Regions from separate parts of the Homo sapiens genome. Here regions 1, 2 and 3 are each linked to region 4. The links come from fine-mapping of genetic effects on gene expression. A gene starts in region 4. Each other region holds a variant in brackets. All regions are shown on one strand. Distances are from middle to middle.

The links.
Region 1: its variant is fine-mapped to the expression of MAP4K3 in whole blood (TOPMed, PIP 0.99).
Region 2: its variant is fine-mapped to the expression of MAP4K3 in lymphoblastoid cells (GEUVADIS, PIP 0.95).
Region 3: its variant is fine-mapped to the expression of MAP4K3 in lymphoblastoid cells (TwinsUK, PIP 0.90).

What each region holds. Positions count from the first base shown.
Region 1 is chr2:39,396,652-39,404,575 of GRCh38, reverse strand. The region is part of intron 1 of MAP4K3 (mitogen-activated protein kinase kinase kinase kinase 3); the gene reads left to right. Among named protein-coding and RNA genes, the nearest start is that of MAP4K3, 37 kb to the left of the region's middle. The variant T/A (reference allele first, on the strand shown) is at 4,577.
Region 2 is chr2:39,490,250-39,498,173 of GRCh38, reverse strand. The region is part of intron 3 of MAP4K3-DT (MAP4K3 divergent transcript); the gene reads right to left. Among named protein-coding and RNA genes, the nearest start is that of MAP4K3-DT, 57 kb to the right of the region's middle. The variant A/G (reference allele first, on the strand shown) is at 3,850.
Region 3 is chr2:39,467,862-39,475,785 of GRCh38, reverse strand. The region is part of intron 3 of MAP4K3-DT (MAP4K3 divergent transcript); the gene reads right to left. Among named protein-coding and RNA genes, the nearest start is that of MAP4K3-DT, 34 kb to the right of the region's middle. RefSeq lists a silencer at 4,877-4,926 and an enhancer at 5,779-6,279. The variant G/AG (reference allele first, on the strand shown) is at 3,417.
Region 4 is chr2:39,433,075-39,440,998 of GRCh38, reverse strand. It overlaps MAP4K3 (mitogen-activated protein kinase kinase kinase kinase 3), which reads left to right and starts at 3,714. Exons shown (of 34, transcript NM_003618.4): 1 at 3,714-4,107. The coding sequence starts at 4,012. It overlaps MAP4K3-DT (MAP4K3 divergent transcript), which reads right to left and starts at 3,583. Exons shown (of 6, transcript NR_037875.1): 1 at 3,464-3,583. RefSeq lists silencers at 3,461-3,680, 3,751-4,110 and an enhancer at 4,441-4,520.

The DNA of each region.
Region 1 (7,924 bases), 36 kb after region 4:
GGTGTTTTATTTTACTGTGGCTGAGCTGGTACTCAAACCATGAAGCGTGGTCTTTCCCAGTCCTTCCTCCCCTTTCCACAGGCAGAGGAGCCTCACGCATTGGCCACCACCACTACAGGCCCATGGGGAGTACTGTCAGGCTACCGCTGATGTTCACTTAAGACCTGAGGGTTCTTCAGTCAGCTTGTGGTGAGTGCTGCCAGACCTAGGACTCACCATTCAGGGCAGTGGGCTCCTTTCTGCCCCAGTGCAGGTCCAGAAATGCTGTCCAAGAGCCAAGGCCTAGAATCAGGGACTCCAAGAGTCCACTTGGTGCTCTACCCCACTGTGGCTGAGCTGGTACCTAAGGTGAAAGACCAAGTCCCCTTTACTCTTCTCTCTGCTTTTCTCAAGCAGGAGTCTTTCACTGTAGCTACCACAACTGGGCATGCGCTGGTTTTCACTTGAAGCCAGCACATGTCAGAGTTTCACCCAGGACTCACAGCATACTACCTGGGTTTTGCTGCTGGTTATTCAGGGCCCAAGGGCTCTTTAGTCAGCAGATACTGGATCCTGCCTGAACTGGGTTCTTCCCTTCAAGGCAGCTGGTTCCTTTCTGGCCCAGGGTGTGTCTAGAATATTATCTGGGAGCTAGGGCCTGGAATGGGTGCTTCACGATCCTAACTGGTCTTATATCCTAGTGTGGCTGAGCTGGTATCCAAGATGCAGGTTAGAGTCCTCTTCACTCTTCCTTCTCTCCTCAAGCAGAAGACAGGGATCTTTTTTAGAGTCACTAGCTGGGGTTAGGGGAGGGGTGGCACAAGCACTCCCTTAGCTGCCCTGGCTGGTGTCATAATAGCTTGCATGCCCCCCAAGTCCACTGGCTCCAAGCCCCACTCAGCCCTACGACTTTGCCTAAGAGTTGCAGTCCTTGTGGCCTAGACTGCCTTTCAGGTTTATTGAGGGCTGCAGAGTACTTCATCCCATGGTGGGGAGGCTTGCCAGAACTCAAGTTCTGACTGTTGGGACAGGCACTTCCCTTCTGGCTAGGGCTGATCTAAATACTCCCTCCATGGTCGGGTGTCAGCTGAGTTCAATGCAAAGTCTCACAATCACTGTGCTTTCCATCCCTCAAGCACACACATTCTCTGCGCCACACTGCCACTGTGGGTGGATGGGGGACGTTGGCAATTCAAGATTGCCTTTCCTTCAGTGCCTCTTTCAGTGATATCTTCAGTGCCTCTTTCAGACATCTTCAGTGCCTCTTTCAGTGATATGAAGTTAAAACCAGGTACTTTGAGTGCACACCTGAGTTTTGGTTCTTATAAAGGTGCTTTTTTGTGTGTAGATAGTTGCTAAATTTGGTGTTCCTGCTGGGTGTCAGTGGGTGGAGTCCTGTTCGGCCCTCTTGCTCTGCCCCTATCTTGAGAAGTATTCTTTTCATTTTTCTGAAAGAGTTTCTGTAAAATATTTTCTTCCTTCTGTGTTTGGTGGAATTTATCAGCAAAGCCATCTGGGTTTGGAGGCTTTATTATTGGGCATTTTAAACTATAGATTGAGTTTCTTTTAGAAATATAGGGCTATTTAGTTTATTTCTTTAATGAGATTTGGTAGTTTGTGTCTTTCAAAGAATGTATTCATTTCATCCAAGTTGAAATTTAATGGCATAAAATTATTTATAATATTTTCTCATTATCCTTTTAATATGTGTACAATCTGTAGTGATGTCATGTCTCTACTTCCCAACATTGGTAAATTTGTGTCTTCTCCCTTTTTTTTTTCTTTCTTTTTTCTTTTTGGCCTGTCTTTTTTTCTGATTGGTTTGGCTAGAAGTTTATCTTCTTAGAGGTAACAGAGCCTTAATTTTATTGATTTTTCTCAAAGACCCAATTTTTGGTTTAATGGATTTTTCTGTATTGTTTTTATTTTCTATTTAATTGAGGTACACTCTGATCTTATTTTCTTTCTTCTGCTTACTTGAGGTTCATTGGCCATTTGCTTTACTTTAGTTTCTTAAGGAGGAAGCTGAAGTCACTGATTTCCTGTTTCCTTTCTTTTTTTCCTTTTACGAGCATTTGTTGCTGTGTTTCTTTTAGCTGTGTATCACAAATTTTGATATATTTCTCTTTATAAGCAATTTGATTATGATATGTCTTAATGTAGCTTTCTGCTCATTTCTCTTGCTGGGAGTTCATGAAGGTTCTTGGAGGTGTAGGTTTATGGTTTTCTTCAAAACTGGAAAAAATTTGGCAATTAATCAAAAAAATTTTGCTCTTTACCTGTTTCTTAGTCTACTTGAAGTTATCCCACAACTAACTGATGCTCTCTGTTCATTTTTTCCAGACAGAGAAAAGACTGTAGTTTCTATTACCGTTTTCTTCAAGTTCACTAATCTTTTCTGGTGTCTGATCTGCTCTTATTCTATCCATTGTAGTTTAATCTCAGTTATTTTAGTTTTCATGTATTAATATGATTTGGGTTTTTTTCGTAGTCCGTGTTTCTATTTAACTGGCTTAGTCTTCACTTCTTGCACATATGTAATGTAGTTATCATAGCTAGTTTAATGTTTCTACTAATTCTGTTTTTGAATCTGTTTTATTGATTTTTCTTCTTACCTTATAGGTTGTATTTTCTTACTTTTTTACATGATTATTAATTTCTATTGTATTTCAGACATTGTGAATTCTACTTTGTGCCCTGGATATTTTTGTATTCCTGTTAGTATTCTAGGGCTTTTTTCTGTGGTGCAGTGAAATTACTTCAGAAACAGATTCTTGTATTTATTTGTTTTTTCTGAGACAGGGTCACACTCCTGTCATCCAGGCCGGAGTGCAGTATTGCCATCTTGGCTCACTGTAGCCTCAACCTCTCCTGCTCAAGCGAAATGCCCACCTAAGCTCCCCAAGCAGCTGAGACTACAGGCACGGGCCACCATGCCTGGCTTTTTTTTTGTATTTTCTTGTAGAGATGGGTTTCGCCGTGTCACCCAGGCTGGTCTCAAACTCCTCAGCTCAAGCGCTCCACTTGCCTGGGCCTCCCAAAGTGCTAGGATTACAGGCATGAACCACAGCGCCTGGCCTTGCAGGTATTATTTCGAAGCTCAGTTAGGTGGGAACAGAGCAGCTGGTAGCCTACAGCTAATTTTCCCCAATACTAAGACAGTATTCTTCTGAGTATTCTACCTGGTGTCTCTTAAATTATGAAGTTTTCCAGTCTGGCCGATGAGAGCATGAACTATTCCCAACCCTTAGAAATCTTTGGTAATTGTTCTCTCTCTTCCTTTCTGGTGACTCTGCTCTAGGCCTTGTGTGTTTCCTCACAAGGATATGGGGATTGGTATTGAGCTGAAATTTTGAGATGAAGATGGGACACCCCCCTCCCCTTCCTGTCTGTATAGTTGTCTCTGTTTTGGTACTCTGTCCTACGAATTCTAGCTTTCTTCATTTTCCTGTATTCTTAGCTTCATCATCTCAACTTAGGGTGACCATCAGGCTCCATCTGGGTTCCCTTGCCCTGCACTGAGGCCTGGAAACTGTCTCTAGAATATAAGCCGGGACAATTGTAAAACTCTGTAGGATTTTATTTTTCTTTTTTAAGGAATCACTGTAGCACACTACAGTGATTCTTGTATTTATTTGTTTTTTCTGAGACAGGGTCACACTCCTGTCTCAGAACTAACCGATATTTCATGTCTAAAGACTAAGTGTTATATGTTTTGTTCATTTTTAAAGCTTTTCTTTTAGGTGAAAGGGTATAGCTGCTTTCTGCTACTGTATTTTGGCCATATACCTTTCTTTTGGAAGCTGAAAATTACTGTATTACTCATTAGTTAAAGAGGAAATTACAGTGAAAATTATACAATATCTATTTTGATGAAAAACAATTAAAGCTATAGATATAAATAAAGCAGGACTTCCAGTCATAATTTATAATAATAAATTCACTTATTAAAAAATAAAAAATAAAATGATTAGATATGAACACCAAGGAATTAAAAAAAGAGCAGAGTAAACTCATAGGCACTGGAAATGTAAATAATAAGGAGGAACAGGAACTAAATGAAGGGGAAGAAAGAGAGGGGGGAACAATAAAACCTAAGCTCAACATTTGACAAGATATGTAAAAAAGAAAAACCTGGTAAGAACACCCAAGAAATAAAAGAGAAGGCATAAATATTATTTGTTAATTATTGTTGCAAATATAAAGAGCATACCTACTAATTTAGCAGTACTTTAAAATATTATGAGCAACTTATGCTAATAAATGTGAAAGCTTCGATGCAAGGATGGTAGAGTCAAGACTGGAGACTGTAGTATTCCAGAGAAGAGATTATGGTGGCCTGAACTCTAGGGCACTAGTAATAGAAACAGAGAAGTTAAAAACATACAACAGACATTTATAATTCTGTGAATGGAGGGATGGGGAGGGTTAAGGTGTTGGGTTATAGCGTTCTCCCTTGGGCAGTTGCGAGATGTTGGGTGGTATCACTACACCTAAAGTATAGCAGGGTTTTTGGGGGGATTAATTTGAGGTACATGGATGTCGGTAGCATTGTCTAGTTGGTTATATGGGTCTGAGCTTTGAGCTTACTGAAGTC[T/A]GGGGAAATTGTCTTATAAACTTACCAACTTGTTTTTCTTTTTGTGAGCATGCCTTTAAATGTTTCCAGAAATATAAAATATCCTCTTTTTAAACCACATTAAACCCTCCCCCATATAAATATTATGTACCTGGCTAGATCTTAGTTAGATATGAGAACAAAGATCCTACTTACAGCAGTCTCTTGTAATAAACACTAAAATGTATGCTTGTAACAGGAGCCCTTAACTTTTTGGCATAGTTTCTGTGTAAGAACTCAGATTTCTCTGAGTGATATGGCTGTGACTTAGATTCTGATTCTCTAAAAGTCATTGCCAGGCTTGTCTGACCCTGCTGCTAGGTAGCTAGGCAGTCTTCACTAAAATATCGCCTCAAATCCTTGCATTTAACTACTTAAGTTCCTAAAATACTTGAAAATCAGCTGTACTCATTTATGTGACTGAGGTGCTACATGTAGACTTTTGTCTTCCTCTTGGCTTGAACAAAACTCCAGGTCACCTCAAAGATGGAAATGAGATGGTTCCCATGTGTTTTTATTTTGTTAAAGAGATGTGATGTATATTGGAAATGGCCTTTCCTCTGAGGCTTTCATTCTTTGACTGGATTGAAGGCTGCTGCGCACTACCTTAAGCCTACCAGTTTTAGCATAATCCTAGCCTGACCTGCACTGAACTGGCTGTTATTAAAAACCTTGTCTGTGTCATCTGAAGTATTCACTGCCTGTCACAAGTGGTACTCTTCTTGCAGGCTTCTTAGTGACATATAAATTACAACTATAGCTTGAACAAGGTAAACAATGTGGCTTTTTGTTACATAGTACAACATACGTTTTCAAAGCATAGTACGTTCTTTAGTTTTAATTGATAGATTGGGAATTTCGTGTGAGCAGGTTGATAAGTGTGATTGCATTTCTGATGTTTATGTTTCACAGAATTCTTTTTTTTTTTTTTTTTTTTAACGAGACAGAGTCTTGCTTTGTCTCAGGCTGGAGTGCAATGGCATGATCTCAGCTCACTGCAGCTTCCACCTCCTGGGTTCAAGCGATTCTCCTGCCTCAGCCTCCCGAGTAGCTGGAGCTATAGGTGTGCACCACCACACCTGGCTAATTTTCATATTTTTTGGTAGTGACAGGGTTTCGCCATGTTGGCCAGGCTGGTCTTGAACTCTTGACCTCAAGTGATCCACCCACCTCAGCCTCCCAAAGTGCTGGGATTATAGGCATGAGCCAATGCCTGGCCAATTATTATCATCATCATTATTATTATTATTATTATTATTATTATTATTTTAATTATTCCTGAAACCATCAAAGGAAAGGCTTACACCATGGCTTAGTAAATTTTTGGGGCCAAATATTAACCATGCCACCAATTTCTTATCTTTTTATTTCAAATTTAATTTATAATTTTAATAAAGAATGCGTTTATTTACGTTTCAAAATGCAAAGTGCTATTTTAAAAAGTATCCCCTGAGAAGTCTTGTTTCCCACCCATCCCCATCTGTCCCTTCTCCTTAGTTCATTTTATGTATTACTAACTGTATTTTTATTAATTTTTGTTAATTTCTGTTTATTCCTTTAGACTTTATGCAAAAGGCTAATTCACACTAATACTTTGCACCCTGGTTTCTTTATTTTTATTCCATGGAGCTCTCTCGTTATATCAGTCAGTATATAAAGACCTTCCTTATCTTTTTTTTTCTTTTTTTACTATATAGTATTCGTTTGTTGGTATATGCTGTAGTTAATTCAGCCAGTCCTTTTGCACTTGAATTTGTTCAGTCTTTTGCTATTAACAGGCAATTTCATACTGATTAAGCTTGTACATGTGTATTTCTTATGTATGTAGGTTTCGTGATGGTTTCGTTTCCTAGAAGGGTGTTTGCTAGGTGAAAGGGTACATGCGTCTGTAATTTTGATTGATATTATTGGATTCCCTGTATATATATCTTGCATTTTGCATTTCAGCAGCAATATATGAGGGTCCTTGGAATGCCCCCCCTTTCCCTACAGCTTGACAAGTGGTTGGACTTAAATCAGATTTTGCCAATCTGATAAGAAACACTATCTCACTGTATATTTTTTGTTTGCATTTCTGTTTTCAGCTTATCATATATTCAAGGGCCATTTGTATTTCTTTTCTTTTTCACATACTTGTCCATTTTTTCATTGGATTATCTCCTCTGTTTCTAAGAATTCTTTATATGGGTGTATTTCCGGACTTTGTATTTTGTCCCACTGGTCTGTCTATTCATTTGCCACTCGTATACTTTTAGTTCTTGAGGCCATATAAAGTTATATTGTTAGAGCTGTTTTCTCATTGCTCTTCATTTTCAGAGTTTTCCTGGCAATTACTGCTTGTTTATTTTTCAATAAGATCTTTAGAATCAGCCTTTCTAGTTCCTGGAGGAAAAAAATTGATACTTTTATTGGGTTTGTATGAATTTTAATATCTTAAGAAGAGTTGATACCTTTATGATGTTTAGCCTCTCTAAGAATATGATTATAACTTTCTCTTCATTCAATTCTACTTTCATTTCTTTAAAGGTTTTTGAAGTTTTCTTTAAGTTTGCACATTTGTGATTAAGTGAAAATATACAAATATTTAGTTGCTATTGGAAATGAAGTCTTTATTTTTGCTGTTGTTTGTATTATAATATGTTGTATATATGAAGATTATTGATCTTTGTATATTCTTTTCATAGGTTACTATCTTACTGAATTCTCTTATGTTTGTAGTCACTAATTCTTAATATTGTTTTAAAGCACATTTTATGGAGTTGGTGAGTACTATATAGGATTTTTTTTTAGTACCAAAGTCTTGGTTGAGAGACATTACACTATCCATTTTTACTGGTTTAGATATGTAGCATGATGAACCTCAGCAAGTTTAAAAAGAATCATTTCTTTATTTTGACTTGAAATTTCAAGTTTTTAAATTGATGAAAAGTTGTCATTTATTGTGGCAGGGGTGATGTGAAATCCAGCCACTTATTGGTATGTGTTACAACTTAGCTAAGTCCAGTAATAGTCAGTACATACTACTAAATGATTCAAAAGCAAATGGTCTTTTAGATCAAGTAATAGATCTCTTAAATTGAGATGTATTTACCTTAGATAGTAAGAATGACTCTTTGGTCTCTTATAAGAGGTGAAGAGAGATGCTGTTTCTGGGCTAGTATTTTTGCTAAAATGGTTTTATGAAAAACTTTCATAAGTTAAAAATTTGGGGCTGGGCGCGGTGGCTCACGTCTGTAATCCCAGCACTTTGGGAGGCCGAGGCGGGCGGATCACAAGGTCAGGAGATCGAGACCATCCTGATTAACAGGGTGAAACCCCGTCTGTACTAAA
Region 2 (7,924 bases), 57 kb before region 4:
AATGGAATTTCTAGTTCTAGATCCCTGAGGAATCGCCACACTGTCTTCCACAATGGTCGAACTAGTTTACAGTCCCACCAACAGTGTAAAAGTGTTCCTATTTCTCCACATCCTCTCCAGCACCTATTGTTTCCTGACTTATTAATGATCGCCATTCTAACTGGTGTGAGATGGTATCTCATTGTGGTTTTGATTTGCATTTCTCTGATGGCCAGTGATGATGAGCATTTTTTCATGTGTCTGTTGGCTCCATAAATGCCTTCTTCTGAGACGTGTCTGTTCATATCCTTCGGCCACTTGTTGATGGGGTTGTTTGTTTCTTGTAAATTTGTTTGAGTTCTTTGGGCTTTACAACTTTCAAAGTGAATTGGATTTTTACCGTAAGCAAAATAGAACAGAGGGTTTATCTCAACCAGAAACAAATGGAGTGTGTAAAATTCAGTCTCTCTCTTCAGCCCCATGCTACTGACTTCTGAATAGCATTCCAGCTGTATTTATCTGGGGCTTGGGAAATTTTCTTGGTTCCTGGGAAGAAAGTTAACTAAAACATATGACATCTCTGGCAGCAGTCACAATTTCACACAAAAAGTTTCTTGCAATAACTTCACATATTGCTTCCCCTGGTGGAATCACTATCTCTAGGGAAAGCTTGGGTCTAAAATGACAACTATATTGAATGAAAGTGAGAGCTGAATGCTAGATCCACCAGCTTGTATCTCTCTAGGAGAAATCTTCATCTTAAAATCACTTTTTATGGATGATGTTATGACAGAGACAAGTCCTAGATTTTTTTCTTTTCCTGCTTTTAAAACATAAAAATTGTAAAACTTCTCAAGTAGCCAGACGTGGTGACGCATCTGTAGTCCCAGTTACTCAAGAGGCTGAGGCAGGAGGTTTGAGCTCAGAGGTTCAAATCCAGCTTGGGCAACATAGTGAGACCCCCCCAACACACACCAATCTCAAAACAAACAAAAAGCCTTCTCAAGTAAAAAAATAAGCAAATACTGTTACTACTCCAGCTACTCAACAGTGCTCCCTGTAGATGAAATACTACAGAGTGTTTGCTATTTACAGGAAATTGGAGGTGGGGTGGTTACTGGAAAGTGGGTTGGCAGAGATTGGTGGTTATGTGATTTAATCCTGAAATAGACTGGTTATGAGAATCAATGTCTTCAAATTTCAAATACTGTCTTGCTTTTGCTTTTGTATATATATACACACATATATACATATAAATATATATACACACACACACACAAAAGCAAAAGCAAAACAGTTATTAGCTATCCTTCCTAGAGATAGCTAGCAAGGACAGCTAATCAACTCTTTCAACATTTCAAGATTAAAGGATGAGGATACCACCTGGGTTTTAATACGGAGATGGCTCAAGCCCTTTCCACTGCCATGTAAAAGATTTTTAGATCACATGTGTTGATCATTACAGTGATGAGATGGTATTAAAATGCTTGACAAATTGGTCTCCATGGCAGTGCTTGTAGTCCCAGCTACTCAGAGAGGCTGAGGCAGGAGGATAAAGTGAGCCCAGGAGTTCGAGTCCAGCCTGGGCAGCAAAGCGAGCTCCTGTCTCTAAAACAAAATACAGACTTGACAAACACCTACTGAAGGCAATATGATCATTACTTACAGAAAGGACAGGATCAGAGCTAGGAGAGTGAAGGACTAGATTTATGAAGCTTCAGTCCCTTCTTTACGGGCACTGAAGAGAAACAGTTCAAGTCCTCCAGTTGTCCCATAGGCTTTGTCATATAAGAATGGATAATTTGCTACAAGCTCGAAATGGCAAAACCAATTACCTAATGTTGCTACTGTACTGACTAATCATCTTACTCATGAAACTATCTACACCTTGCAGAGAACTTTAAGAAAACCACTGGGCATGGTGGGTCGTGCCTATAATCTCAGAATTTTGGAAGACCAAGGTGGGGGCATCCCTTGAAGCCAGGAGTTTGAGACCAGCCTAGGCAACACAGCAAGATACTGTCTCTACATAAAACAAAAAATAAGAAAAGTTAGCCAGGCATGGTGGCTATGCCTGTAGTCCTAGCTACTTGGGAGGCTGAGGCAGGAGGATCCTTGCAGTGAGCACTCCAGCCTGGGTGATGGAGCGAGACCCTGTCTCAAGAAAGAAAGAAAGAAGGGAAGAAAGGAAGAAAGGAAGGAAGGAAGGAAGAAAGGAAGAAAGGAAGGAAGGAAGAAGGAAGGAAGGAAGAAAAAGAAAGAAAGAAAGAAAGAAAGAAAGAAAGAAAGAAAGAAAGAAAGAAAGAAAGAAAAACCTTGCAGTATACATTTTCATAAGCCCAAAAGTTACTTCCTTCCATTTATTGCAAGGCTATAAGAACCCAAATGTCTGCCTGTTATGATTTTAACCAGCACTTTTCTACAAGTGAGTATGTTCAAGAACCCCTAAAAAGACTGTAATAATCAGATATCAAGCACCTATATGAGGTAGCAGGAGGAAGAAAGAGGCAGTACAAACAACAATCCACACATAATCCAGTAATGCAAGCTCTGAAATTCCAACACTTCATTTCAACTGCTTCCCCCAAAATTCCATACCATGTTCTTGCTTTTGGATAAAGTCAGTGACAAGAAACGAGATGGTCATACAGCAGCAGCAAAAATATAATCAGGAAATATAATGACTTTGTAATATCCCTGTGCGAAAGAAATAAACCTGAGTAGTGAGAGGAACATGGGTCTTGGATTAGGATATAGAACAATGTTTAAACCCTGGTTGGCCAGGTATAAGCTATGTAATAACCTTGGGCAATTCACCTAATTCCTCTGAGTCTTAATTTCCTCATTTCTTATATGTGGTAATTGTGCCTAATTGAGAAGATGCACAATAGAAATTCAATAGTAGCTCTAATTACCATGCAACAACCTTCCTGGTCCACTGTGTGGGTTTCTTTCAGGCTGTGAGTAAGTGGACATGGATTTCTGTAGCTAGTCTCTGCCAGAGGATATGAGTATTTCAAGAAGCAGGAAGGGCTGGAGGTGTGTGAAGGCTCCCCCGCTCCTGCACTTCATTTGTACACTCTCATCATCACTGGAGGAGTCTCCTGGCTGCAGTTGAGCCTTCGATGAGATGATTTGCATCACTCACATTCCAAGCTGGGTGGGGGAAGCCCAGACATTCTCGCTCTGCCCCTCAACCAGCTTGGTGCCAGATTTCCTCTCGCTTCACCCCCCCAGGAGGTCATCTAGGGAGCAGGCATCACACAGTAGCAACAGGCCTTGCGGATGATGACATCATAGGCTATTTTGCCCACTCTGTTTATCTCGCACTGAGAGGCAGGAGAGCACAGTAAGGAGCACAGGTTTTTTGGTTTGGTTTTGTGGGTTTTGTGGGGGTTTTTTGTTTTTTGTTTTTTTTTTTTTTTTTGAGATAGACTATCACTCTGTCACCCAGGCTGGAGTGCAGTGGCACGATCTCAGCTCACTGCAACCTCCACCTCCGGGATTCAGGTGATTCTCGTGCCTCAGCCTCCCAAGTAGCTGGGATTACAGGAGCACACCACCATGACTGGCTAATATTTGCATTTTTAATAGAAACAGGGTTTTGCCATATTGGCCAGGCTGGTCTCAAACTCCTGACCTCAAGTGATCCTCCTGCCTTGGCCTTGCAAAGTGCTGTGATTACAGGCGTGAGCCACTGCACCTGGCAAAGAGCACAGGTTTTGAAGTCAAACAGACCTATCTTCAAAGTATGTTTCTGTCCTGTGCCACATCTAAACCTTAATTCCCTAAGCTGTAAAAGATGATCAAATAGGCCAGGCACGGTGGCTCACACCTGTAATCCCAGCACTGTGGGAGGCCGAGGCGGGC[A/G]GATCACCTGAGGTCAGGAGTTCCAGACCAGCCTGGCCAACATGATGAAACCCCATCTCTATTAAAAATAAGAAAATTAGCCGGGCATGGTGACATATGCCTATAATCCCAGTTACTCCAGAGGTTGAGGCAGGAGAATCACTTGAACCCAAGAAGCGGAGGTTGCAGTGAGCCGAGATCATGCCACTGCACTTCAGCCTGGGTGACAAGACTGTCTGAAAAAAAAAAGGAAAATCAGGATTTCTAAGAGATATCTCTACTCTTACGTTCATTGCAGCATTATTCATGATAGCCAAGATATGAAAACAACCTAAATGTCCATCAACAGATGAATGGATGAAGAAAATATGGTATACATATACAACAGAATATTATGCAGCCTTCAAAACAAAAGGAAATCCTGTCATTTACAACATGAATGAACCTGAAGAACATTAAGCTAAGTAAACTAAGCGAGACACAGAAAAACAAATACTGTGTTGATTTCACTTATATGTAAAAACTAAAGTAGTCAAACTTAGAACAGCAGAGAGTGGAATGTTGGTTGCCATGAGCTGGAGGGATAGAGGAATGGGGAGATATTGGAAAAGGGTTACAGAGTTTCAGTTATCCAAATGAATGAATTCTGGAGATGTATTCTACAACGATGTGACTACAATTAGCAACACTATATTATATACTTGAAATTTGCTAAGAGGGTGGATCTTAAGTGTTCTCACCACCAAAAAATAAAAAAGAAGGGAAAGAAAGGAAGGAAGAAAGAGAGAGAGAACAAAAGAAAATGGTAACTATGTGAGGTGATGGATATGTATATGATATATATGCATATTATATATATATGATTTGATATGGATATATGCATATATATGCATAATTGAAATATGTACATATTTAAAGTGTACGACATGATTTGATATGCATATATATGCATATATATCCATATATATGCATGGATATGGATATGGATATATATGCATGGATATATATGCATATCAAATCATCATGTTGTACACTTTAAATATGTACAATTTTCAATTGTCAATTATATCTCAATATGGGAAAAAGTCTTGTCATGAAGGAGATGCTTAATAAATAGTAGTTAATGTTATTATCTTTGATTGATTTGTCTTTGAATAAATTTCTGTGGCCTAAATGAGGAAGCATATTCAAGGCATATATCCAAATATTTGTAAGAGTAGAGGAATGTTCTTAATCCAAATTATATGCACCAGTATTGCTCACTTGAGTGGAAGGAAATTATAGAATGGAGTATTAACTTCCTAATGACTAGACAAAATTAGTTGAGTAAATTACCCAATCAGTTCAGGAGAAGAAAATAAAAACCTGATTCAAAGGGTTTTTTTCCCCTCTGTGGGTTCATTTTATTGCTGCAACCCTCTAATTTGTTTTAGTTATAAAGACATGGCCATTTCATTTTCAGTTTCACCCAGGAACTAGAACTATATTTTGAAATAGGGACAACTGGATTTAGAAAATCACTTTTGTACAACTAGAACTCATTTACAGCTAGTTATTCAAATATCCAGTGACAGCATAATAAAAATTTAGGGCCTTCTTTTAATTAAACACTCCAGTTTACAATTCCCTGGAAGTAGTAACACATATTTGGAAACTGCTCTCTTTCGTGTTTTTAAAATAGCATCTAACATTAAGACAGTAATTTATTAAGAAATAACTTGCTGATCTGAAAGTGTTGATGTGATTTCAAAATGTCTTTAGAATGCATCCAACTCGATGAGACTTATATGCATGGATTTGGAGAACAAGGAGCTTATCATAGGACTTTCATAGCCCTCTCAAAATGGCAAATGAAGATAAACTGCAGAAATAGGGACTGCATGTTGCAATCAAAAGGGAACCTGCCCACAGACTGAAACAAACTTGGAAAACAAATGAACGGAAGATTAAACAGTGAAGTCTAAGTACTATCACTTCTTCCCCTATGATTAAAGCCTGACAGGCACCATGAGTCAAACTGTAAATATATACTAGTTATCATAGACCTCACTGGGTTTATGCGTCAGTAAACCACAGCTGCCTCTAATTTACCATTGAAACATGTTTTAGGGAAATGAAACTAGCCACCACCTCCTTTCATGCATGTGATATACTATTCATAACCAAGCCCTAATGACAGAAGAGAGCATTCTTAAAATAGTCTAATGGCTTTTTTGTATTCAACAATACAATCCCCCTATATTTTTTATACCTAACTCACCACATATTCAAGAATTTTCCATCATGTGCTTAACTTTAAATTTTTAAATGGTTTTCTTCACCTGAGCTGGCAGCTTTACTATTGCACTAGTCCAAACATATAGATGGGAGCGTCCTTAAATATGCAGCAAGACACACGTGATATAAATAGGAGGAATCATAGTATAGGACCACCTAATAATAATAAAGCCAATGTTTACTTAGTGCTTACTATTTACCTAACATTGTGCTAAGCACTTTTGAAGAATTATTTTGTTTAATCAGCAATTCCAACAAGACAAAATTCCAGTGTCCCAGATGATAAGACTAGCGAAACTTAAAAATCCTAATGTTAAAAAATTAAACCGCTAAGTGAAAATTAGTTTTTCATGGGTGATTTCTTGGCAATTTATAAAATTTAAGTTTTCCTAAAATTAACTGTAAACTGATACATATTAATCATACATAGCAAATGTCTACAGTCAAATTTTAAGCTATTTCTCTGCTTTATTAGCCATTTATATCAGCTTTTATACGAAACTTCCTTTTCATAGGTGCAATTGAAGACAAAGGATCAAAGCTTTTTCACTGGGCACGGTGGCTCATGCCTGTAATCCCAGCACTTTGGGAGGCCGAGGCGGGCAGATCACGAGGTCAGGAGATCGAGGCCATCCTGGCTAACATGGTGAAACCCTGTCTCTACTAAAAATACAAAAAATTAGCCAGGCGTGGTGGTGCACACCTGTAGTCCCAGCCACTCAGGAGGCTGAGGCAGGAGAATGGCGTGAACCCAGGAGGCAGAGGTTGCAGTAAGCCAAGATCACTGAACTCCAGCCTGGAGGACAGAGCATGAGACTGTCTCAAAAAAAGAAAAAAAAAAAGTTTTTTGTACTTTAAGCTAACTTTCATGAAACTATCCTATCATCAGAAACCCACTGCCAGTGGGCACAGTGGCTCACGCCTGTAATCCCAGCACTTTGGGAGGCTGAGGCAGGTAGTTCACTTGAGGTCAGGAGTTCAAGACTAGCCTGGCCAACATGGTGAAACCCCATCTCTACCAAAAATAAAAAAATTAGCCAGACGTGGTGGTGCGTGCCTGCAATCCCAGCTACTCGGGAGGCTGAGGCAGGAGAATCACTTGAACCTGGGTGGCAGAGGTTGCGGTGAGCTGAGATTGTGCCACTGCACTCCAGCCTGGATGACAGAGTAAGACTCCATCTCGAAAAGAAAAAAAGAAACCCCACTGCCACCTCTGAAAGATCTTCGGTGATTTGGGCCATTCATTCATTCCTCAGACTTAACCACCAACTGCACACCACACCCTGGGGATACGAATAAGACATGAACTCCACCTTCAAAACACATTCAGCCTGCTGAGAGAGATATAAACAAACCACAGCAAATATAATGCACAATATCATATAACAGAGGTAGAGAGAATGGAGGTCAAAAGGAGAAAGTAATTGAAAAAAAGGCAATTTTTGGAAGGCTTCACAGAAGCAGTGACACTAAAGGTAGCATCTTTTTTTTTTTTTTTTTTTTTTTTTGTGAGGCAGCGTTTCACTCTCTTGCCCAGGCTGGAGTGCAGTGACCCAATCTCAGCTCACTGCAACCTCCGCCTCCCAGGTTCAAACAATTCTCCTGTCTCAGCCTCCTAAGTAGCTGGGACTACAGGTGCACGCCACCATGCCAGCTAATTTTTGTATTTTTAGTAGAGATAGGGTTTTACCATATTGGTCAAGCTGGTCTCGAATTCCTGATCTCAGGTGATCCACCCACCTTGGCCTCCCAAAGTGCTGGGATTACAGGCATGAGCCACCTCGCCCAGCCTAAAGCTAGCATCTTAAATGTAGATGAA
Region 3 (7,924 bases), 35 kb before region 4:
TAAAAAGAATTTGTTCAAGACTTTCAAAGGAATTAAGCAGAGGAATAACATTCATAAAAATTATGAAGCACGAACCGTCAGAAATAAAATAGCTATGATTATGAAGAATAACAAATTAAAATCCTGAGAATTAAAAATACAGTCATAGAAAAGTTTTTTTTTGTTTTGAGACAGAGTTTCACTCTTGGTGCCCAGGCTGGAGTGCAATGGCATGATCTTGGCTCACCGCAACCTCCGCCTCATGGATTCAAGAGATTCTCCTGCCTCAGCCTCCCTAGTAGCCGGGATTACAGGCGCCTGCCACCATGGCCAGCTAATTTTTTGTATTTTTAGTAGACACAGGGTTTCACTATGTTGGCCAGGCTGGTTTGGAACTCCTGACCTCAGGTGATCCACTCTCCTCAGCCTCCCAAAGTGCTAGGATTACAGGTGTGAGCTACCATGTCCAGCTCAGTCATAGAAATTTTTAAAAGAAAGAAAGAACAATGAATAGGATAAACTCTGAAATGAACACACTTAGAAAATTGGGAAATAGTACAATATTGCTAAACTGACCCATGACAAAATATTGCACCCGCAGAGTTAAGAGACATATACGGTAGGCAGGGAGACCTCAACATACCACTGCTAAGAGTTTCTGATGAAGAGCAGTTTGGTGATTAATACATTCATTTATTCTTTTTTTTTTTTTTCAGATGGAGTCTCGCTGTGTTGCCCAGGCTGGGGTGCAATGGCGCAATCTTGGCTCACTGCAACCTCCACTTCTTGGGTGCAAGTGATTCTCCTGCCTCAGCTTCCTGAGTAGCTGGGATTATAGACGCGCACCACCATGCCCAGCTAATTTTTGTATTTTTAGTAGAGATGGAGTTTCACCAGCTTTGGCCAAGCTGGTCTCAAACACCTGACCTTGTGATCCACCCATCTTGGCCTCCCAAAGTGCTGGGATTACAGGCATGAGCCACCACGCCTGGCCCATTTATTTAATTCTTAGAATGAAAAAAAATATATTGGCAACAAGTATCCAACTGAAGAAGCTGAAAAGAATGTTAGTGAAAATCCAAATAAAGAGGAAGAAACTAACATGCAGGCACAGAGATTAATAAAACACACACACAGATACACACACACACACACACACACACACACACACACACACACCAGAAGTGAAAAATGAAACAAAAAGCTAGTATAGTCGGCTCTCCATCTGTATCTGCAGTTTCCACATCCACAGATTCAACCAATTGTAGACAGAAAATATTCTGAAAAATAAAAAATAACAATACAACAATAAATATGCAAATAAAAACAATATAGCATAACAACTATTTACATAGCATTTATATCATATTAGGTATTTTATGTAACCTAGAGAAAATTTGAAGCATACAGGAGAATTGTGCAGGCTATATGCAAATAGTATGGCATTTTACATCAAGGACTTGAGCATCCTTGGATTTTGGTATGCAAGTGTGTCCTGGAACCAATCCCCCACAAATACCAAGGGACCACTGTACTTTGAAAAAACTAATTAAATTGACACACTTCTATTAAGGCTGATCAAAAAGACAAGAGAAGGCACAAAAATATTAGGAAAGAAAAGGTAATATAAACAATTCAAGTAAAATTTATAAATACAACTTTTTTTTTTTTTTTTTTTGAGACAGGGTCTCACTCTGTCTTCTAGGTTAGAGTGCAGTGCCATCATCTAGGCTCACTGCAGCCTCAACCTTCCAGGCTCAGGCGATCCTCCTCAGCTCAGCTTCCTGAGTAGCTGGGACTACAGGTATGTGCCAGCACATCCGGCTAATTTTTGTATTTTTTGTAGAGAGGAGGTTTTGCCATGTTGCCCAAGCTGGTCTCAAACTCCTGGGCTCAAGCAATCTACCCACCTCAGCCTCCCAAAGTTCTGGGTTTTACAGGCATGAGCCACCGTGCCTGGCTACAAATACAAGCTTTTTAATTCTTCAGAAAATATTGCTGGGCACGGTGGCTCACACCTGTAATCTCACCACTTTGGGAGGCCGAAGCAGGTAAATCACACGGTCAGGAGTTTGAGACCAGCCAGTTCGAGATCAGCCTGGCCAACATGGTGAAACCTCGTATCTACTAAAAATACAAAAATTAGATGGTTGTGGTGGCAAGCATCTGTAATCCAAGCTACTCAGGAGACTGAGACAGGAGAATTGCTTGAATCTGGGAGGTGGATGTTGCAGTGAGCCGAGATCGCGCCACTGCACTCCAGCCTGGGCGACAGAGCAAGACTCCATCTCGGAAAAAAAGAAAGAAAGAAAGAAAGAAAATGTTATTTTTCAACCTCATGCTAATAAACTTGTATACATGGATTTAGTAGAAATGTTTTTAAACAAATACAAATTATCAAAATAAACTCAAGAAGAAATAGGGAGCCTGAATAGATTTAAAAAAATCAGTAATAGATCAAACAACAATCAATCAAAATTATTACTTATCAATAAATATCAGGCCCAAGTGTTTTTGTTTTTTTTTTCAGATGGAGTTTTACTCTTGTTGCCCAGGCTGGAGTGCAATGGCCCGATCTCGGTTCACTGCAACCTCCACCTGCCAGGTTCAAGCGATTCTCCTGCCTCAGCCTCCCAAGTAGCTGGGATTACAGGCATGCACCACCACTCCTGGCTAATTTTGTATTTTTCGTAGAGACGGGGTTTCTCCATGTTGGTCAGGCTGGTCTCGAACTCCCGACCTCGGGTGATCTGCCTGCGTTGGCCTCCCAAAGTGCTGGGATTATAGGCGTGAGCCACCGAGCCTGGCCTCAAATGTTTTTTTACAAATGAGTTTTATCAAGCTTTCAATTAAGAAATAGTAGCTATCATACAGGAACTACTTTGTAAAATTGGAAAGAAAGGAGGTACTATCCAATTCACTCTATGATTCTAGGGTAGCCCTAACACCCAAAACAAATGGCAGTAAAAATATTACATACCAAACTCACTTATAAACTGAATTGAAAAGATCCTATAGGCTGCTCTGTCTATGGAGTAACCATTCCATTTTATTTTATTTTTTATTTTTATTTTTATTTTTTTGAGACGCAGTCTCACTCTGTCACCAGGCTGGAGTGCAGTGGTGTGATCTCGGCTCACTGCAACCTGTGACTCCCTGGTTCAAGTGATTCTTCTGCCTCAGCCTCCCGAGTAGCTGGGATTACAGGCATGTGCCACCACACCCAGCTAATTTTTGCATTTTTAGTAGAGACAGAGTTTCACAATGTTGGCCAGGATGGTCTCGATCTCCTGACCTCGTGATCCGCCTGCTTCGGCCTCCCAAAGTGTTGGGAAGTGTTGGGATTACAGGTGTGAGCCACCACGCCCGGCTGGAGTAGCCATCCTTTTATTCCTTACTTTCTTAACAAACTGCTTTCACTTAAAAAAAAAAAAAAA[G/AG]AAAGAAAGAAAGAAAGAAAAAAATAAAAGACCCTATATCTCTAATTAGAAACCTTAGGAAAAGATAAATTCTAAATAAAATCCTAGTCAATTAAATTCAAGAATGTATTTTAAAAAATAAAAATACCTCATAACCAAATAGAATTTACCCCAAGAATATAAGAATGTTTTGACATCAGAAAATATCTATATATTTGTTCATAATATTGCCTACATACAGAAAAACACACAAAAAAAACCCTCTATGGAATTTTTTAAAAAAGACATTCTACAAAAGTAAACATTCATTCATGAGTTAGTAAATTTTGTATATATTTTATTAGGATAAATTGTCCTCTGACCATTTCTTCATTCATTCATTCTTTGTTTCCTTCCTCCCATCTACCATTAAAAGCAAGGCTATAATAAGTATTTTCCTACAGTCTCTTTATGCACACATAAAATAACCTCTCTAGAGTGTATACTTAGAAGGAGCATTGCCTAGGGGAAGGATCTGCTCATCCTCAAGTATTTATAAATTGTAAAGGTTTGTACAAATTTACACTGCTACCAGCAGTGTATGGGAGCTTCCCCATATCAATGCCAACATTTTCAATACTTTTTACCCGAAATGAATGGGGATAAAATTTATTTATGAATTCTACCAATATTTATTGAGAACTTAGTATGTGTCAAGAACTGGAAAAGAGTAGTAGGTAATGAGGTGAAAAAGGTCATGGTGTGCAGAGGATGCATGTGGCACCGTTGTCATAACTTTGGCTTGAAGTGACATGAAAAGCTATTGGAGGATTTGATTCAGAGAAATGGCATGATTTGACTGTTTTGTAAGAATCACCCTGGCTGTTGTGTTGAGAACAGACTATAAGGAAGCGATGAAGGAAGCAGGGAGACTAGTTAAGAGGCTATTGCAGTAATTCAGACAAACAGATGATGGGGGGTTGGACCACCATAAAAATACTTCATTTAAAAATTTTGTATTTCCCAGAATTGCAGTGAGACCATGTTTATGACCATGGGTAGAAAAGGCCTCCTGAAACAATACAAAAAATACCAAAGTCATAAAGAAGAGGATTAATAAATTTTACTATATCAAAACTTTACATCTGTTCAACAAAATGAGATTCAAATCCAAAGGAGAGACTGGGTGAAAGTATTGTAATGTATGTAGCAAAGGACTTGCCTTTATATGTCCCCAGAAAAAAGACAAAATTGAAAAATGGGCAAAGAACATAAATAAGCAATTCACAAAGAAGGAACATGAATGGCAAACGAGCATCTGAAAAGATGCTCAGTCTTACTGGTTTTGGGGGGAAACAAAAAGAAGAGGATGCTATTTTTTATACATTGGATTGACAATAAATAAGAAAGACTGATGTGTTGGGAAGCATCTGGAAAAACAGACATTCTCTTACCGTATTCCTGGGAATATAAACTGGCCAACCTTTTTGGAGTACACATTGGCAGCAATCCTTCACACTTTGGATGCGCCTATCATTTGACCCAGCAATCTCACACCTTGGTATCCACTGTAGAGAGATACTTGCATATGTGCAAAAAGGAAGCAGGTACAAGGTTGTTTCACTATAGTACTATTTATAGTGGTAAAAACTGATAGCATAGCAACCTAAATGATCATCGAAAGACTGACACTTAGTGATGCATCTGACTTATGTGAGAGCATGCAGCAGTTGAAAAAAACTAAAATGTACTGACACAGAAAAATCTCTGAGAGATATGGCTAAACTTAAAAAAAAAAAAAAAAGCAAAGTTGAAGAACAATCCACTGTGTGATACCATTTCAGTCAAAACAAAACAAAGCAAAATTCCCTCACTGGCTCTCTCTCTGTCTGTGTATAGATATAGATAGATAGATAGATACATAGATAGATAGATAGATAGATAGATAGATAGATAGATAGATACATATACACACATATGTAGATGCAGATGTATGTACACAGATAGATCAATAAAGATATATAAATAACTAAAAAGATGAAAAGACACACTCCAACTTGAAATCAGTGTTTGCTCTAAGGAAGAACCTGAAATAGGGGTTGAAGGAGTAGGAGGAAGAAAAAGTTTTTATTCATCTTTCTTATGTGATTTTCTTAAAGATTCCTTGAAGCTTCACTATGTGTAGGAAAAGACCTTCCCCTTTCTAAGTTACTGTTCAGTGTCAGGCATCTGGGCCCCTGCACTGCATTCCAGACTAGCTGCATTTCTGGTGAAGCCAGTGATTCATCTGAGCATGCCCTGGGCCAGCCCCAGGTGCAGCTATTCTGTGCTTTATTCTAGGCTCAATATCCACCCAGACTGACCTTGGGCAAATCAGTTTCAGTTCCTTTCTCTTATCTAGCTCAGTTGTGGGGCAGTTACCTCACAATGGGATGAGAACGAGGATGCAAGCAAAGTATTCTATAAGCTGCCTCCTCAATCTTCTCAGTGCCTCTGGTAACCAGCCAAGCCAGTCTTGGCCGTGTGGAGGTGGACACTTCAGGGGAAATGCTTGCTGACTTTGTGCACTATTCGGGCAAAAGGGCAAGCTGGGGATACCATTGCTGGAAAATTTTTAGTGCAACCAAGTGTTCCCTACCCATCTGGCCAGCTAGATACGGTTTTTCTTGCACCCTTTTTCAGTAAATGTAGAGCAGATAAGACAGCCTTTTACCCCACAGATTAAGCCCTGGAGAGATCATCCATAAATTACAAATATAGATTGATTTGGGGTGGGGGTGGGGAGGGAAGGCAGGAGAGGACCTAAATGCCATAAACAAACTCCTAAGGAGAATGCCATGAATAAAAACTTCCTGTACCAGTCAGCAGCATCCTAATGAGAGGGAGTTCACATGTGTACAACAGCTGTGTAAATTATAAAGCTTAAAAGGTAGAACTAACCGCATCATACTACTTCCAAAACACTCGATTCCTTCCTTCTTTCTTCTTTTCTACTCCAAAATAACCTAAAACAATCCTATAACAATTACAAACTGGGGGAAAGGCAAACCATTCTGGGAAAGAAAAAAATAGCAGCTGCTCTAGATATCATTTTCAGATTTTGGCTAGGATTGTTTAAGTTATTTTTTATTTTCTTTTATTCTTGGCTGGCTTGACAGTCCTTCAGGATTTCAGCTGATTCCAAACACAGCTCAGTAAAGATCATTCCAGAGAAGTTTCATATTCCTAAGATTCCTTAAATTTCTCTTTCTTTTAACTTAGGAAATTAGGTTGAAAGAAGATGAAAAACAGCCCAGATTGCACCATTTCCTATGCAAGTTTCTTGCAAAGCAAGCTGTGTCCCCCTTTCCAACAAGAACAGAGAGACATAGTTCTGACTGGGAGGTGGGCGGTGGGTCCTCTGGAGCAGCAGCAGGACTATTTGTCTTTTGAAAATGCCCCAGCAGGCCCAAAGTCTGTCTGAAAACTTTTTGTAAAGGAGGAGGAGAAAAAAAAAATGAAATTCTAGTGAGCTAACCATCTAAAAAAGCCAGTGACTGCACTGTGGACTTCTTTCATGCAAGAAATATTTATTTTGCACCTAGGTGTGCCAGGCTCTGTTCTATATACTGAAGAGGGAGCAATAAAGACAACTAAGTGTCTGATTCCCTCAGAGTTTCTGTGCCTGGGGACTGTTACAGGAAAGCGGTCCTGATCCAGACCCCAAGAGAGGGTTCTTGGATCTTGCGCAAGAGAGAATTCAGGGCAAGTCCACAGTGCAGAGCAAAAGCAAATTTATTAAGAAAGTAGAGGAATAAAAGAATGGCTACTCCATGGACAGAGCAGCCCTGAGGGCCGCTGGTTGCCCATTTTTATGATATGCTAAACAAGGGGCGTATTATGCTAAACAAGGGATGAATTATTCATGCCTCCCCTTTTTAGACCATACAAGGTAACTTCCAGACATTGCCATGGCATTTGTAAACTGTCATGACGCTAGTGGGAGTGTAGTAGTAAGGACAACCAGAGGTCACTCTTGACGCCATTTTGGTTTTGGTGAGTTTTAGCCGGCTTCTTTACTGCAACTGTTTTATCAGAAAGGTCTTTATGACCTGTATCTTGTGCCGACCTTCTGTCTTATCCTGTGACTTAGAATGCCTTAACCGTCTGGGAATGCAGCCCAGTAGGTCTCAGCCTCATTTTACCCAGCTCCTATTCAAGATGGAGTTGCTCTGGTTCACACACCTCTCACAAAACCATGAAGACAATTCAAGGAAGCCCTTTCCCCTGTCTGCTCCCAGCTGGGTTTCAAGTCTCTTCCTTCTGTTGGTCCTTCTCTTACAACCCTGGTTTATTATACCCTTTACCCTTCCCTTATGTAATCACATGTCCCTTTGTAAACATCAAAGGAAAATAAGCAGGCCCAGGGAGCTGATGAAAATGAGAATGATGACTCATAGAAGGATGTTTTTCTATTTTTCACTTATACAAGCCTCTTCTGAAAAGAGCCTAGATGCCTTTTCTTTCTGAAACTAGTTTGTCTCCTCTATTGTAGTGAGTCCTCACTTTGG
Region 4 (7,924 bases):
TGAGTTGTCAGACAAGAGGTCGAGGATGAAATTGGGAGCCTGTGCAGGGGATCAAGGGGTTCCTAAGCCAGAAACCCATGGGGGATGGGGCAATAGAAGGATGGCCTGGACATGCTGGCAGGTGGGGACTGCTGCCTATCTTGGCCTTCTTGTGTTCCTTGCTGTGTGATGCTTAAACGGGTAGGTGCTTCAAGGCGCTAAGCAGCCAGCCTGTCATGCACCACTTTCCCTTGTCTGCCTATGCATTTTTCAAGGTTCAGCTTTAGGGTTATTCCTTTTTTTTTTTTTTTTTTTTTTTTTGAGACGGACGCTTCCTCTGTTGCCCAGGCTGGAGTGCAATGGTGCAGTCTCAGCTCACTGCAACCTCCACCTCCCGGCTCAAGTGATTCTCCTGCCTCAGCCTCCCGAGTAGCTGTGATTACAGGGGACGTGCCACCGCGCCCAGCTAATTTTTGTATTTTTAGTAGAGATGGGGTTTCACCATGTTGGCCAGGCTGGTCTTGAACTCCTGACCTCAGGTGATCCACCCGCCTCGGCCTCCCAAAGTGTTGGGATTACAGGCATGAGCCACTGCGCCCAGCCAAGGGGTCATTCCTAAATCTTCCTCCCGTCTGCATTAATGTCCCTTCTCTGTGCTTCTCACACTATTTATGAGACTGTCAACTCCTTGAGGGAAGGCATTGTGGCTTTTCTTTTCTGTATTCAATACCACCAGAATCTAATAATCATTGCCTCTAAATACATTACAGGGAGGTAGAGGTTGGCTTACCATAAGAGAAATTTTTTACAGTATATTGTATATAAGCAGAGTATAGACTAGTGGCTAAGAATCTAGCCTTGGTGTCATACTGCCTTTGTTCAAATTTCAGCCTTCTGTGTTACCTTGAGCAGTTTAATCTGTCTGTGCCTCATAAAATGGAGATAATATTACCTATGTCATTAGGTTGTTGTGCGAATTAAATGAAATAACACATGAAAAATACTTGGCTCCATTCCTGGTATCTTGTAAGCACTTAGCAATGTTAGAAATTACTACTTTTCTCCTAGTTATTATGATCATTTACTAGCACTGTATCACAACGAGGTGGGTTGTTTTGGGAAGCAATGAGTCACCTTTTATTGAAAGTATTCAAGCAGCAGCAAATCCAGCAGAGATGCTGTAGAAGCAGTTCCTGAGTTAAAAAGATTAGATGACTTCTAAGAATGCTTCTAATCATAGAAGAGGGAAGCTCTTTCTCTGATTCTAGGAAAGTGTGATCATTAGTGTTACTTCTAGCAAAACTGAGGATTGTTAGAACAGGGGGAAAAGGCACTGGAATTGGCCACATGCATATATTACAAAAAACAAAATATTTTCTTTGTGAGCAGTTGTTTTACTTATGTTGTAACCCACATGGCAAATCAGGCCCTTACATGGAAATTCATCTCTTCTCAAAAGGACTAGCTTGGCCCTGCCAAAATGGAACAGACAAAACTTTAAAGACTGTTCTAGCCCTACTGAAATGTCTTTTCCTTTTGAAAGCAGTCTATTAGTGATGCAAATGCAAAGTTATTTGGACAGACGATAATCTCAGCAAACAAAACACTGAAGTCATTAGAACTTTCTTGTGCAGCTTTCAGTCCTGAGAATTTGGCTTTCTGGCACTAAAAAGGCAGAGGCCGGGTGCAGTGGCTCATGCCTGTAATCCCACCACTTCAGGAGGCCGAGGCAGGCGGATCATCTGAGGTCGGGAGTTCAAGAGCAGCCTGACCAACAAGGAGAAATCCCATCTCTACTAAAAATACAAAAATTAGCTGGGTGTGGTGTTGCATGCCTGTGATCCCAGCTACTTGGGAGGCTGAGGCAGGAGAATCGCTAAGAACCCGGGAGGCAGAGGTTTCAGTGAGCTGAGATTGCACCCTTGCACTCAAGCCTGGACAACTAGAGCGAAACTCCTTCTCAAAAAAAAAAAAAAAAAAAAGGCAGAGGAAAAGAGCAGACCTGGCTTCCATTTGGGATAATTTGTCAGGTCTGCTTATCTGAATCCTTGGCTAATTATTCTTGCGCTTGGCCTAAACATGCCAAACAATTCTCCAAATGTGGACAAACTGAAGGAAGGCCTGTAATCTGGGTCCTGGGCAAGTACCTTAAACAAGCAAAAGCAAGACCTTTGGCTATGGAATAACATTTATAGTCAGGAGTTTCTCAAGATACCAGAGCCTGAAGGTAGATCCATCGAGAAGATATTCAATGATATGCACTCCTAAGGCAATAATTTAAGTGATACTTTCATATTACTGATGCTTTAAAATTTAATAATTAAAAATTACACAACTGAAAGGCTACTTATATAGGTGAAGAGATAACCATTTTCAAACATCAATTTAGTCAACAGATACTCAAAGTAAACAATTTGAGAATTTAGTACATATGCAATTTTCCTATGAGCAAAAGGATTCAAAAGATTTTTTGAAAAAGTATGAAGCAGTTAACTCTAAGTAGTTTGCTCTACTATTAATTTATTATACTTATCCTTAACAGGTTTGATGAGACCTAGTTTCTCAGGAGCCACGAGGTATTAGGGAATATTAGTGGTTAGAAGGTGTGGTGCCTAAGGGGATTAGGAAAGCATTTCTGAAGCAAAACTCCAACGTGGTATTGCCAAAGTGGCCATCACCTAATTGATTAAAGCTCCTGCAAATGTCTATTGGGAAGTTCAATGAGAACAGAAAAATAACCTTCCATTACCCTCAAGCTTTCTTGGGCAAGTATTAACAATCGGAGCTGGAGTCCACATAGCTCAGATGTAAGACGCGCAATCTGGGTCTTAAGCAGGGTGGGGTTTTTGGGTAGGTAAGGTCACAGCTAAAGAGCTTCCGGATCGTCACGTGTTTATATTTCAGGTGCGGTAATAGATCTAGTCCACTCTCCACCCCTTCTTTACAGGGTTGCTTGACAGCCTGCGCAGTCCCCGCCCGTCTTTGATAATCCAACCCTCTTCGAAGAGGGAGGTCAATCACTGCTTTAGTTCTGCGCTCTGCCTGCCTCCCACGCGGGATGGTGGGCAGCTGTTCCGCGTGTTTTCCTCCCGGAGCTTTCACGCTCTGCCCACTGCACACACCTCCCTCGCGGCCCTCCTGGCCTGCCCTCCTTTGCACCCTGGCAGGCCAACTCCAAGGGTCCGAGTGTCGGTGACAGGGGCAAGCAAGCACAGCTCACTTTTCCTGGGGGTTTTCCTCACGGTGTGTTTAGTGACCCCTCCCCGCAATCCCAGAAAGGCTGCAGCACTCCATGGTATCCTACATGTAGCTGCTTCTAAAATAATAAAGGCTGGGACATTGGCTGTCTTGGATATTACCACTATGCTACCTGCTTGGAACTGGGACCAGATAGACCAAGGTCCAACTTTGTCGTTAGGGGAATCAGAAACGAAAAGAAGCCACTTTCTGCTAGTCCTAACCCCGGTCCCTGGGCCAGGCAAACCTTTTCAAGCGTCCGGCGGCAGCGGCCGGGCGCGGGTCCGCAGAAAAGCCGAGGCGTTTCGGGTCCCAAGCTGTTCCGCCGCCGGCCCCGGCCTGGCAGGCGCGCGGAGCCGGAACGCGCAAGGGGTCGGGTGCGCGCCAGGCCTGGCGCGCTCCCTCCGGGATCGCGGCTGCGCAGTCGGGCGGGAGTCGGGAAAAGGGGAGGAGGTTGGAGGAGCCGGAGTAAGGGGAGGGGGAGGAGCGGCGAAAGCGGAAGCCATGTTGGAGTTTCACCCCGAGCGAGGGGCTGCGAGGGTTCTCCTCTCCTTGTGGGTGTGACCAGGTTCGGCGCGGCGGCGGGCCGCGGGGGGCGGGGACGATTGGCCGCTTGTCGTCGTCCGCAGCGGCGTGAGGGGAGCGGCGGCGGCGGCGGCGGCCGCAGCGTGGAGCCGGGTGATTGTGACCGCCGGGGGAGCCGGGAGCCGGCCGCGGCGCCCTCTCTCCGTGTGGCCCCCTGAGCGGCCCCCCTCCCCTGCCCGGGAGGGAGGCGGGGGGCACCTGGGGCCCGCCATGAACCCCGGCTTCGATTTGTCCCGCCGGAACCCGCAGGAGGACTTCGAGCTGATTCAGCGCATCGGCAGCGGCACCTACGGCGACGTCTACAAGGTAAAGGCAGGGGCCGCGCGCCGCCGAGGCCGTGGGATCCCGACCCGCAGCCAAGCCTGGGCGTCCGAGCCCTTGCCGCCTGTCCTCGGGAGACGCTGGCGCCAGGGAGCAGTCGGGGAGGAGGAGCTGCGGACGCCAAGGGCTCTGCTGCCTTGGTGAACAAAGGGCCGAATGTTTAACCCCGAGACCTCCCCAGCCCTTACCTGAGCCCCCCCGGTGGACATGATTTTTGCCACCTCCCTTCTTGCGCGCATTTCCAGGGAAGGGCAGAACGAGAGCAGGCCACACTGCTCATCCATAGTGCAGAGAAGGTCTGGGCGTTTGTTGCGTTGGCAGGGTCAGCGCGACGAACCGGACAGCAGGGGTCTGGTGTTGTCAAACCTGCCTGCTTCACGCCAACCTGGGGTCGTCCGCTCTAGGTTGGGAGCTGCTGCCCACCAGGCCTCGGTGGTAGTTATTATACTATGCTGAGCGACCTCCATCTTCCATCGACAGCTCTCAGCCTTTAGCGCCTTATTCATCCCCCTGTCAGTTTCTTTTAATTTTCCAGAGTAATGACTTTTTTTTTTTTTTGGAAAGAGCAACTTTGTTTTCTCTAAGTCGAATTGGACTGCGATGCCATTTAAACTTGTTTTTTAAAAAGTGACTTGAATACTTAGGGAAGGTACTGGTTTGACAAGGTTAGAATTCAAAGTCCAGTAGCGGTACAGCATTCCTGTTGTAGAGGGACCACTTCTAAATGTGGGAAGATAAATCACTCTTCCCTGGCCAACTCAACTCTTGGCCTCACAGTTACTGCCAAGAAGAGAGGAGGTTGTTGCCAAATGTGGCAGCAGTCTTGATTTAGTTGTGTATCTTCTTACTGGTAACTGAAGTTGAACTCCTCCAGTTTCACATAACACCTGAGGATGCACAAAGAAACTTAATTTTGCATTGGAAAGTTCAGTCTTAACTTTATTTTGCCCATGTTTAAGCAGGTTTTTACTCTTCAGTGTAATGCCTGTGGTAACTTACATATTTAATACAGTGCAGCCAGTGTTCTGCTTTAGTCTGATTTTCTGGATGATCTACTTTTCACCATCGTGGATCTCATCACTTTTCCTACTATGCAATATAGATATATTGAGCCCACCTACAATGTATGAGATACTTGGCAAGTAAGCACTTTGGGTTGTAGCAGTAAACGATAGACTTGGTTCCAAATCTTCCTAAGTGTTTCTATTTTTTTGGACAAGGACAGTATTAAATAGCCATTTAAATAATTATTGCCGTTTAATTTTGTGATGCAGAAAAGAGTATTAGGATCAGGGTTATGAGAGCATGTAATAGGAGGACCTGATCCTGTTTAGGGTATCAGACGCTCATCGCCTTTCAGCTGAGATCTCAGAGATGATTAGGCGTTGCTTAGGGTACTGGGGAGAGGGGATTACGCCAGATAGGGGAGCATGATATGTGAAGGCTCTGAGGCCCGATGTGAAAGAAGGCCTGTATAGCCTGAGCAGCCAGAGCGGGAGGGTGGCCCTAGATCTTGCAGGCCTCTTAGTTCTCATTAGGAGATCGGACTTGTTTAGGACAATGGGGAACTATTGCAGGCTTTTAAGCAGAGGAGTGACATTAGATTTAGGTTTTTAAAAGAGCTCCCTACTACAGCATGAAGAGTGGAATGGAGCAGTTGGGAGGCCACTGTGATAGTCTAGGTAAGAATAATGGTGTTAAGGAATATGGTGATGACTGTGAAAGTAGAAGTGGATGGATGCAAGTCACTTATGACTGGTTGGGGGAGTTCGCTTATATTGCGATGAAAAGTTAACTAAAACTCGATGAATGTATACGTTTTAGGTGGCAGGGTATACAGTGAATTTTTTTACAGGACTAATTGGCTGTGTACTTGCTATATTAAAAAGAACAGTTAGTAGTTAAGCCACATGATTAAAAAGCAAAAAAAAATTAGGGCCTGTAATTTCCTAAGTGTAATAGAGGTATACTAAGTTGGTTAATCTTGTCATTCGTTTAAAATAATGATAATACTAGCTGATGTTTATGGAATGCTTGTTACTTGCCAGGCACTATAAGATTTTTCTAATTAATCCTAACAGCAACCCTGTGAGATAGGTGCTATTGTTAACTCCATTTTGCAGTTGAATAAACTGAGGCACAAGGAGATTAACTTGCCAAAGTTGGTAGGTGGCAAAGCCAAAATTTGAACCAATTAGGGACTGTATTCTTAACCAATTGGCAGTGCTGCCTCTCTAAAGATAGGAGATGGGCAGATAATGTATTACATTTCCAGTGGAGAAACTGAGGCACACATTTAGTTTAGCATTTGAGTTGTAGCCACACTCTGAGTCAGTGTAGATCTTTAAGTAGTAGTTGGAATACCTAATTCCTGCTGTGCCACAAGGTCTCACTGTTTATGTAGTCTGCCAAGTGGATATCAGATAATAGATGCTTGGTCCCTGCCTGCCAGACTCTTCCAATACCAGTGACCAAAGCAGAGAAACTTCATGTGGTTCTTGACATCATGTACCCCTGCCTGCCAAACTCTTGTTTATGTTTTTGTCTATAATCAAGTTTATTCTATAAAGTTACATTTTTTTGTTATTTGTTTTGCTGTTTTAGTTTTTTCTTATTTATACAAATTAATTGTGCTAGAGAGAAGTACATTTTGTTTTCAAAAGCCAATATATATAATTTGTTCCTTAATTTGTCAGCATTTACGTGCTAAAAATGGAATGATTGGATTAAATAAATAAGAGATCCGATTATAGTCATTCTTGGAAGGTTGGTGGAGATTTTTATTTTGAAAATGTTTTCCTACTCAATGTAATAACATATTTATTGTACTTAAGGTGGCGTGGTTTAGTTCCAAAGCACTGAACAAGGATGTGGACAATCTGGGATTTATTAGCTATGTGACCTTGTGAAATCAACCTCTCAGAGCTGTTTTGTTGTGGAGATATTATTACCATCATATGCCCTTCTTCTTTTGGTATTGACTAAATGACTCAAATTTTACTTAGTAAGTAAGTTATCTTTATTTTTTTCAGGCCAATGCATATATACATTTTATCTGCACTGTCTAAAGTCGTATCTTGTAAGTGTCGTGTAACTCTGCAGGCTTTATCTGTCATGAAGTGCCTGCAGCTTGGGTTACCTAGGGACCTAGGAGCTGGCAACTGAAGCTCTTTAGTTGGGCCTCAGGAGGCCCATGGAGTGCTCTGAAATTAATAGGCTTAATGTTGTATGTATTTGTGTTTTTCTGTGGAGATGGGTTATAGCATTCATTGCATTCTTAAAGAGCTTCATGATCCAAAAAAATGAAAAAATGATCCATAGGTTTGCCATTCAAAAAAGTTTTCTTGGAGAAATTAGGTAGTTATAATAGATCATAATATGATTTTCACATGCATTGTGCCATCTTTTGTCAGGCAGTTTTCCAGTTTAATTTTTATTATTCCTACCCTTTAAGTCTTGATGTCCTTATGTTTTTCTAGATTTTTTGCTAGAAAGAAGCAGGAGATAGTAAAGCTGGAGATGGGATAAGGCAAAAGAAGTTTTGAAAGAATAGTCTCAATATGGTTTCTGAGGAAGTATCTTACCTAGTCTTATGGTTTTAGTCTGGTCCCTGTGAATGATTCCTAGCCTGTGTATCCAAGACTGGATACACAAAGACTCCAGGCTGTAAGCCTTAGAGTCATCTTTAGTGACTTCTGGACTGGGCTTCTTAGGCATTAGCTAAATTCTGTACACAGGCATTTTCCAAAGTGTGGTTGGGGTGCTTCAGGAAAAGCCATACCATGAGTAGGTTAAAGACTGA